Regions from separate parts of the Homo sapiens genome. Here region 2 is linked to region 1. The links come from fine-mapping of genetic effects on gene expression. A gene starts in region 1. The other region holds a variant in brackets. All regions are shown on one strand. Distances are between the middles of the regions.

Region 1 (5,242 bases):
TGTGCCTTGGTTAAAATGAGTGTTCAATAAATGATAATTATTGTTCTTGCTATACTTTATTTGCCTTCTTCATTCTCATTTTCTCATGAATATACAGTGGAGTTTTCCAGTGGCTACATGAGGTGTTACATGATATCACAAAAGATTGAATGCAAGCAGATATGAGAATCCTACTGTCTTCTATTAAGCCAGACATTAAAGAGATTTGCAACAATTTAAACAATGATACTTTTTCTTTTTTTTAGACTAGTCAAATGCTATACTTTTTCATTAAATTTTTTATTGTTGAAAAACAATAATATAAGCAACAGAAAAGATACTGTGTTAACATGTAACTATTATTGTCACTTAAAAACAAATTTATGAATATTTAACTTTTTCTGTTAATTTTTAATACAAAAATATTAATAGATATCACCCACATAAAGAAGCATCTCTGATGTACATAATAATCTTTCAAAGTTGTGAAGGGACCTTGAAATAAAAAAAGTTTGAGAACTGCTGATATAGAGGCATGAGAATGGTAACCAGTAGGGTAGCTTTAACTTCTTAGGATCTAAGCTCCATTAAACTAATTTTAATAAAATTGGTCTCCTTTGTGACAACTGATGAGTTGATGAAGAGTCTGGTAGAGGTGATCTGGAAGGGAATGATAAGGTGGAATTATAGCTGGGGACATGGAGAGAAATGATAGTCTCAGAAGGGGTGGTGTTTTATTTATTTATTATTTATTGAGATGGAGTCTTGCTCTATTGGCCAGGTTGGAGTGCAGTGGTGTGATCTCTGCTCACTGCAACCTCTGCCACCCAGGTTCAAGCATTCTCCTGCCTCAGCCTCCTGAGTAGCTGGGATTACAGGCGTGTGCCACCACATCTGGCGAATTTTTGTGTTTTTAGTAGAGACAGGGTTTCATCATCTTGGCCAGGCTGGTCTTGAACTCCTGATATCGTGATCCACCCCCCTCGGCCTCCCAAAGTGTTGGGATTACAGATGTGAGCCACTGAGCCTAGTGAAAGGGTTGTTTTAGACAAAGCTAGCCTCTCTCTCCATTCAGTTCTTCCCACTGTGTCGTACCACTTCCTAAGAGTGCTTTAGAATGTAGGGTTCTGATAATATAGTCGAAGAGTTTTTGTTTTATAGACATATCATACTTTTGGCATGCAATGGGGACAGTTCCTGGAAAGGGTCTGTTATCTGCAGAAGGCTATTTCACCACTTGAGGCTTTGAAGAACTGAAGATCAGCTGACTTAGTTTAAAACTATTCATGTTCCCAGCAGCTTTAGGATAGCAAACCAACTCTGGGTCATCTTTATTTAAAGCCTCTCTTTAATAACCTGTAGAGAGGGGCTTTTGTTAATTGTGACTAGTTCTTTAAGAGAAAGCGTAACGTGATGGTGTTCCTTTCTCTGTTCTCTCTTTAAAAATGGTTTAAAGAATTTACTGGGGTTGATTGATAACCAGCATTCACAGGTCAAGGCATGGGTCATAATCTATTTTCCAGTCTGCATATGTTGAAAGCGCCTTTGCAAAAAGGCTTTTTGCAAAGCCTTTTATAACTGAGGAAATTATGGCAGTGAATGAGAACAGACCTAACTGGCTCTGTCTTGCTTCTAATCTTTAAGCTGTCCTTGTTCATTCCTGGGCATATGCCAAACTAACTTTGGGAAGGAATCCAGTTCATGTTTTGACTCTGAAACAAAATTGGTAGTAGCCCTTTCCTGAATAGACCCCCTTCTTGCCTGGGGACCAGTCTGCCTTTGCAGGACCAACAAATTAGCTACAAGATTAGAAATTATGGTTTAGGGGTCATGCAGCCTCTGGCTCCAAGAGTCTGAACCTCCCCAAATTGCTCCTGGGGATAACATCACTATTGTAAAACCTAAGATCAGTGCTTGAGATATTTTGCAGAGCCTGGACTCGGTGGATCAGCTGATGCCACACAGACCGGTAATTGGGCTCACCCAGTTCTGCCATCCCACCCAGGAACAGAAGACAGCAAGAAAACCTCACGTCGACCCCCCATGATTCCATCTCCAATCTGACCAATTAGCACTCCCACTTCCCAAGCCCCTACCCGCCAAATTATCTTTAAAAATTCTGATCTCCGAATCCTGGGGAGACTGTGTTGAGTAATAATAGAACTCCGGGCTGGGCGCGGTGGCTTATGCCTGTAATCTCAGCACTTTGGGAGGCTGAGGCAGGTGGAATCACTTGAGGTCAGGAGTTCCAAACTAGCCTGGCCAACATGGTGAAACCCTGTCTCTGCTAAAATACAAAAATTAGCCGGGCGTGGTGGCGGGCGCCTGTAGTCCCAGCTACTGGGGAGGCTGAGGCAGGAGAATCGCTTGAACCTAGGACGGGGAGGCTGCAGTGAGCCGAGATCATGCCACCGCACTCCAGCCTGGGCCACAGACAGAGACTCCGTCTCAAAACAAAACAAAACAAAACAAACAAACAAACAAAACAAAAAACTCCGGTCTCCTGCACAGCCAGCTCTGCGTGAATTACTCTTTCTCCATTGCGATTCCCCTGTCTTGATAAATCGGCTCTGTCTAGACAGCGGGCAAGGTGAACCCACTGGGCAATTACAATGTCACTCAAGGTCTGAAATGGAATGTTTAATATTTTCAATTACATTAAAGAGAAGAAAAAAAGTAAAAAACAGGAAAACAAAAAACAAAATAAAAACAAAGATTGTTAAAAATTCAATTACATTGTCTTTTCCTAGCCCTAAAATTTTTCTTTTGCAAAAGAGTCTTGTGAAACAGATTAAAGGCTTAAAAAGAAACAAAACTCCTAAATTTCAGGGGTAATTTGCAAAATAAAAGATTTCTTTTGCATTATATCATTCACACTGCAGAAAGGTTTCGGTTCTATGCAATCTGATCTTTTTCCACTTTTTAAAAGTTAATTTGCTTTTACTTAGCACTATTATAGAACAGGTATTTTCAAATAGTTTTGCAATTAAACACAAAAACTATAATTTTTGTGGCGAAGTAGGTACTAGTTGGCAAACACTGTTCCTTAGTGTAAAACAGAATTCTAAGTTTTCAGAAATGGAGTCCTAAAACTAGCACTGGTCTTGCAAATCAAGTTCTGCAGCTTAGTTTGGGAAAGGTTCCCTTTTGGCTCAAGGCTTAACTGGCTCCACCCAGCTGCTGAAATGTGATACAAGTTGTAACAAAACCGGAAGTTGGTTAGGCTGCCTTCGCTTCTCAAGGTAAGTGTCACGTCTTTTTCCTTAATGTCAAAGCTCTTTGTAAAGCGTTAAAAATCAAATCCAGCTTAGCGACAGACTGGAGAGCGAGTGCCTGTGCTGACCAGGGCAGTCGGCCAGGCAGAACGGGTGCTGTATTCCGAAACTATGTTCTGGAGCTTGAATTGAGCTAATGAGTGTTCACTAACGAGTTAGGTTAATATGTCCTGTGACTTTGACTAACAAGCTTTAATTCCAAGATATGGGTGGTTATAAGTAGAGACGTGTTTGGGATCCTGAAAATCATTGACTTTATTCTTGCAGGAGTTTTTTTTTTGTTTTTAATTTTAAATTTAAAACTGTAGGAACTCTTTTTTTATATTTAAAGCTAGTGGCATGGTTACCTATATCAGGGTCACTTAGAACCTTATTTGGTTTTTAAAGTGGCTTTTTATCTAGAACTTTTAGTCCCCTTACCCTCCCACTCCCTAGCCCTGGTGTGTCGTTAAAATTTCAGAAAGACTCCAGGGTGGCAAGGTGTTATCACTGCACTTATTTTTGTGTGTGCTTGTCATACTGCCCTAAAGGGTAAAGGGGATTTTTCAAATTGTAAATGTGTTATTAGGAATATTTCTTAACATAGCTAAACTTTTCAGTTCAGATATTTTCATTTGCTTCTGTATTTTTATTTTTTATTTTTATTTATTTATTTATTCATTTATTTTTGAGACGGAGTCTCGCTCTGTCCGCCAGGCTGGAGTGCAGTGGCGCGATCTCGGCTCACTGCAAGCTCCGCCTCCCGGGTTCAAGCGATTCTTCTGCTTCAGCCTCCTGAGTATACTGCTGGGATTACAGGCGCCCGCCACCACGCCCGGCTAATTTTTTGTATTTTTAGTAGAGACGGGGTTTCACTGTGTTGGCAAGGATGGTCTCTATCTCCTGACCTCGTGATATGCCCGCCTCCGCCTCCCAAAGTGCTGGGATTACAGGCTTGAGCCACCGCGTCTGGCCTATTTATTTATTATTTTCGAGACGGAGTGTTGCTCTTGTGGCCCAGGCTGGAGTGCAACGGCGGGATTTCGGCTCACTGCAACCTCTGCCTCCCGGGTTCAAGCAATTCTCCTGCCTCAGCCTCCTGAGTAGCTGGGATTACAGGCAGGCACCACCACACCCGGCTAATTTTGTATTTTTAGTAGAAACGGGGTTTCTCCATGTTGGTCAGTCTGGTTTCGAACTCCCAGCGTCAGGTCATCTGCCTGCCTCGGCCTCCCAAAGTGCTGGGATTACAGGCGTGAGCCACCGCGCCCAGCCACTTCTGTATTTTTAAAAAAGTGGTAAGATTTGAGTATTATACTGGGATAGAACTGAAGTTGGGGGCTTAATTTGATCTATCAGCTTATTGAAAACAAAGACCTTTTAAGAGATGGTTTTGTTAGGTTGGAGAAGTGAGTTTTAGTTCGTCATTTAGTTAGCCAGTATGTTGATTTTTTTGGTGAAGTGTACTCTCTGTTTCACACCTGTCAGCTTTTTTAATATTGGATTTTCTCAAAATTCACATAACAATCACACTGTATGAGTACTGTTTTGAAGGTTGTCTGCTAGTCAGAATGAATGGAGATCAATGTGTAGGACACCTTTACTGATATCCAGAGGTTTACCAAAAGACAAGTCACCAAATGTGGCAGAAAAACATGATAAAATTTATTAGGAAAAACTAAAGCTTATGGAGTGAACAGTTATTTCAGGTTGGTGGAATTAGGCAAGAATCCAAGAAAGGAAGACAGTTTTATATGGGAGACTTTGTTAATGGTGGTCATTGTGCTAGATATTTTGGAGATAGTATTTTATTTAATCCTCATGCAAGCCATTGATATTGGTGGCATTGTCTCTAACAAGTGAGAAAACTAAGACTCAGTAAGGTTAAATAATTTGTCCAGGGTCACTATGGTGGTGCCTGCTGGATTACATTAATGGACAGATTCAAACCTAGGTCTGTGATATTTCAAAGTCCATACACTTCATTGTATCATAGGACAGTAGTTGAC
Region 2 (5,242 bases), 27 kb after region 1:
AACCAATCAACATTTCATTTATGGAGTGCCTGAGTCCTTCTTCTAAATAAAATAGTCTTCACCAGAATGCTAATGTCATGCAATGATAAATTACTTCGCAAAATGATAGAAGTTCCAGCCATGCTGAGCTATTGAGTGACTGAATGGTAGCTCTTTTCCCTTTTATTTCAGGGATCAGCAGTGAGTCACAGAAGTGCATCTAAAAAAACAGAAATTAAAGTCTACTGGAATGCTCCAAGCAGTGCTCCAAATCACACACAGTTTCTGTGAGTATAAGAGTTTATAATTCTGGGCCAGGCATGGTGGCTCATGCCTATAATCCCAGCACTTTGGGATGCCAAGGTGGTGGATCACTTGAGCCCAGGATTTTGAGACTGGCCTGGGCAACATGGTGAAACCCCATCTCTAAAAAAAGGAAAAAAAAGTTTACAACTCTGTAACTACTAGTATAATTGAAACCATAATTAGTCTGTATCATTTTCTGTACCTATTGGACATTCACACATGTAGGAGAGCTTTGGTATAGTAATAACACAACCTTCCTGATGTAGGAGTTTGTTTTGCTTTTTACCAGTGTATACCTATCACCTAGCACAGGACCTGTCACAAAATACACATTTAATAGACATTTGTTAAGTGAATGAAGTCTTGTACTGCCTTAATCCTAATAAGAGCTATCAATTAATACTTGAGTCTTTATGTTATATAATACTACTTTTAGATTGGCTCCTGTATTAGCATGAGAATACAAATGAAAGTCTTGAAATTTGGATGACTCTTACTCTTTTGCAGTATTACAACTTGCAGATTAGACTCTCAGAAAGACTGCATGCCTCTCAAATTATGAAACTCAGTAGAATTAAAACAGAACTTCTTCCTTATCCTACATACAAGGGGAAATGGAATGTTATAATGCCATCTAATGATTCCTGAGGGGTGATATGGACATATATTTTAAGGGAAGGATTGCTATCCTGACATGACTGTTTTCTTCACTTTGTGCGTGGGTCCCCAACACACAGTAACACAACTCTGCACTGGTATGTTAGATGGAATGTGAAAAAGGGGGTGTGACCCCAGTGAAAGCTGATGGTTACTGATGCAGCCTCTATTATAGCTTGTTGCTGTTGTTGCTTGCTACACATGCCCTTTGGAAGAATTGAATACTGCACTCTGAAATGACTTGTAGTATGTTCTTCATATGCCAGGAAGTAGAAATCTGTGCAGTTTTGTCCCTGGGTCTGACATCATGGCTATTGTGAATATGCCCCCAAAACAGACAAATAAGGAAAGAGGGACAGAGGGAGAGAAAGCAATAAAAATTTGTCAAGTGATCGGGTGGGAGAGAGTGGTTAGAGATTTGCCTCAGGCAAAATTAATAGTCCTGTTAGGTAGTAAGTCATGTTTTTCTAGTTTAGTCTTTCTTTTTTTTTTCCTTTAACGTTTTGATCTGATTGTGACAGGACACAATTAGGGTTCTAATCTCACTGGTATTGCATTTCAGAGTCACAGTTGTTGAGAAGTATAAAATCTACTGGGTGAAGATTCCTGGTCCTATAATTTCACAACCAAATGCATTTCCTTTTACAACACCTAAAGCTACAGTAGTACCTTTGCCAACGTTACCTCCCGTTTCCCACTTAACCAAACCAGTAAGTAACAATTTTATTTTCTCTGTAGAGATGGGGTTTCACCATGTTGCCCAGGCCGGTCTCGAACTCCTGAGCTCAAGTGATCCTCCTGCCTTGGAGTCACAAAGTGCTTGGAATTACAGGTGTGAGCCACTGTGCCCAGCTTTAGTAACATTTTTATAGCTTCATTAAATGTAATCTAAATAATATGTGGCCAAATATAATGTCCATATATTATAAAATACAGAAGAGAAGGTAAACAAAATAAGACATTACATAGGAGTAAAGTGCTGTACTTAGTTTTCTCTATGTGAGCAAACAGGTAAATTTGTGATTGGAAATTGTGGTTCTGTGTATTTTGTGTGGCAAAGTGCATAGAGAAGTAGCTGTGCTGGGTAGTGGTAGCACGTTTTGGAGTCCTCTGTAGGAATCTGAAGGAAGCCTTCATTGCAACCTTATGACTTACAGGTTAGAATGAAGGGAATGCAAGACCCTGCATGTTCAAGGTTTGGTCATGACATTCACCTGTAGTCTTTACTGGTGGTGGATATGTTTTCATTTGAAAATAAATCTGATGAAGCAATAGTTTTTTTT[TC/C]TTTCTTTTAAACACAGCCAGATATCAAAAGAAGAGCTTAAGTTAAATTTAGACAAGATTTGGAGGAGATTCTTGAAATGGTGATAATAACTCTTAGATCTCATTTCATTAAGGTCAGAGAGTCCTAGGGAATTGTATATGCTGAACAACAGAAAATGTCTTGTAAATTCATCAGTTAGAATTTCATCTAGGCCCTCTGATTTAAAAGATTTATGATTGACAAGACGTATCTTGGAAAGTGTTATGCATATTAGAAACATAAGGAAGAAGGGTTTTACTGCAGGAAATTCTGATAAGTTAGACTTCTCAATTCAGAAGTGGATACAATAAAAAAAAAACGTGTTGAGAAAGGTTGTTTCAGTTGAAAGAACAAACGTGGGCCTAAATACTGACTTGCCTAATTTTCGTGTGTCTTTGGGCAAATTACTTAATTTTCAGTCTCAGTTTCCTCACCTATAGAAAGAGATGTAATAATATTTAGCTCTTAGTATCACTGTAAGAATTAAAATAATGAATGTAAGTTTTCTATAACTGTGTCTTGCATTTAATAGATATTCAGTAAACATTAGTTCCTTTTCTTTTTCCTTCTTTTTATTATCCTTCTGTACCTTTTTATTCACATAGAGAAGACAAAGTAATGCGCTTTGCTCCTTATTTTGTTTTCCTTCTCTTCAACGTCTTATAGCATATGGGCACTATATTTGATTACATTATTATGATTGTTGCACTTTCGTTTGACCATACAATTAGATCTGTTATTTGTACTAGCTCTCAGTTTAGGCTTAATCCTTATTTAATTAAAAGCTGCTTTAGGGAAATACACAGTCAGTTTGGACCTGAGCTTCCCAGTAGGAATCTGTTGACAATATTGTTGTCTTTCCGTATATTCAATCAAAGGCTCTTGTTGGAACTTTTATTGTGTCTTTGTGCCATGTTTATAATCTCTAATTATAGGGAGGTTCATTCAGAGTCAAAGGTTTATAGCATTTTTAGAGCTCGAAGATACCTCAGGGTCTATTTCTTACAGTTTTCTTGTTGTGTAGTTGAAGGTTCAGGGATCCTGAGAGAACAAGTCCTTTGGCAAACATGATGTAGGGAAGGGGAGAGCAGAGACCAAAGTCCAAGTTTCTTAATTCCCCAGTGGCTTGTTCTCTTCACCCTAGTATGATCTGTCTTTACATTTCCATGAACTCTAGTTACATAATGTTTAGCTCTCTTCTGAAATTTACTGTCACAGCATTCGAACAAAGTCTGCTCATTTATCAGATTATACAGCTGATTTTTTTTTCTAAGACTCTTCGTCTTATATTCCTTATCAAGAAGCTCGGGATTAAGTCATCCGATTGTTGCTTATTTCTCCCCCCAATAAATCACTATGGTTATTTGGAATGCTGGTAAATTGGGGCGACCATTTTTTTCTTATGTCATTTTAGTACGAAATTTGAATCAGAATTCTAGAAGCAGAATCCACAACCTAAATATAATAGCTTTCTAAGTATTTATTTGTTTGCTTTTTAAATCTTCATCTCTGAGAACTAGAGGATACCCTTTAGGCAGGAACGTTAGTGTCATTTAAGTCTTAGGGACTGAAATATTAACTCAAAAATTTCTCAAAACCTATCAGAAACTTTGCTCCAAAACTTACTTAATGTGAAATGTTTTGTGTATTACAGGAGCTTTAATACCCTTGCACAATTACAGCCCAACAAGTGTATGTTTTCCAAATTTTAATTAAAATTAATTAAGTTTAAAAGTTCATAACCTAACTACTGCTCCGATCATTTTTAATTTGGGATGTGTCTTTTGTTTCCTTATTTGAATGCTTATTATGGAAAGGTATTCTCATTAATTTGGGAGCTACCCGTACTTGAAGGTAGTTATTCTTCTGTCATTGCCAATGAACTGCTTGTTTGATAATTAAGATTTTTTTTTCCTCTGTCATTTTTCTAGTTCAGTGCCTCAGATTGTGGGAACAAGAAGTTCTGTATTAGGAGTCCTTTGAACTGTGACCCAGAGAAGGAGGCTTCCTGTGTCTTCTTGTCCTTCACAAGAGATGACCAATCGGTGATGGTTGAAATGAGCGGCCCCAGTAAAGGCTATTTATCCTTTGCATTGTCTCATGATCAGTGGATGGTTGGTACCTCTCACTTACATAAGTGGTAACAAAAGGAGAATCACGGCTAGGCATGGTGGCTCATGCCTGTAATCCCAGCACTTTGGGAGGCCGAGGCAGGTGGATCACGAGGTCGGGAGTTCAAGACCAGCCTGGCCGAGATGGTGAAACCCCACCTCTACTAAAAATACAAAAATTAGCCTAGCGTCGTGGCGGGCGCTTGTAATCCCGGCTGCACGGGAGGCTGAGGCAGGAGAATCACTTGAACCTGGGAGGTGGAGGTTGCAGTGAGCCAAGATTGTGCCACTGCACTCCAGCCTGGGCGACAGAGTGAGACTCCATCTAAAAAAACCCCCCCAAAACAAACAAACAAAAAACCAAAAGGAGAATCATTGAAACTGTTTGTTCCAGGGTCAAATGATCATCCAGGAGAAGCTAACTTAGAACAGATTCTAAGTTAAACGGCTTTGAGTACTGTATGATTTTAACAGTTGGGCAATTACTTCCAAGAACAGGCTGTCCTAAGGAAAGTTTGGAAGATCATTTTATTTCCAGTGTATTTGCCATTTTATGTCTGTCTGTCTCTTTGCGATAAAGCAGGAAATACAGTTAAGAAAAGTTGTTCTGCATAAAATGTCATGTTTTTTGTAATGCTTTTCAAACCAGAATTGTTTATTCAAGTGGCCAGAACTAAAACATGTGTTCCTGCTCTTTTGTCCTATTTTAGTAGTCATCAGTGCCTTTCCTAAAAAGAGAATTAAACTTGTATATCCAGGCAGCATGTATTACAGTAGGCTCCTTTGTCAAATCAGCAGAAGGCAGCATTTATTTTAAGCCGATTCTCACTCATCCTGGGTAGTGCTGAAATGGATTAAATGATTCTGTAGGTGGCAGCCTTGTGCT

Direction of the effects. Positions count from the first base shown, and alleles are read on the strand shown. Sizes are in standard deviations (SD) of each study's normalised expression.
With allele C in place of TC in region 2, the expression in monocytes after R848 of the gene that starts at base 3,193 in region 1 is higher (moderate effect, 0.41 SD a copy in Quach 2016).

What was found. PIP is the estimated chance that this variant, and not a neighbour inherited with it, causes the effect.
Region 2: its variant is fine-mapped to the expression of FRRS1 in monocytes after R848 (Quach 2016, PIP 0.95).

What each region holds. Positions count from the first base shown.
Region 1 is chr1:99,764,586-99,769,827 of GRCh38, reverse strand. FRRS1 (ferric chelate reductase 1) reads left to right here and starts at 3,193. Exons shown (of 17, transcript NM_001361041.2): 1 at 3,193-3,221.
Region 2 is chr1:99,737,203-99,742,444 of GRCh38, reverse strand. It overlaps FRRS1 (ferric chelate reductase 1), which reads left to right. Exons shown (of 17, transcript NM_001361041.2): 5 at 172-266; 6 at 1,505-1,652; 7 at 4,177-4,359. Among named protein-coding and RNA genes, the nearest start is that of FRRS1, 27 kb to the left of the region's middle. The variant TC/C (reference allele first, on the strand shown) is at 2,226.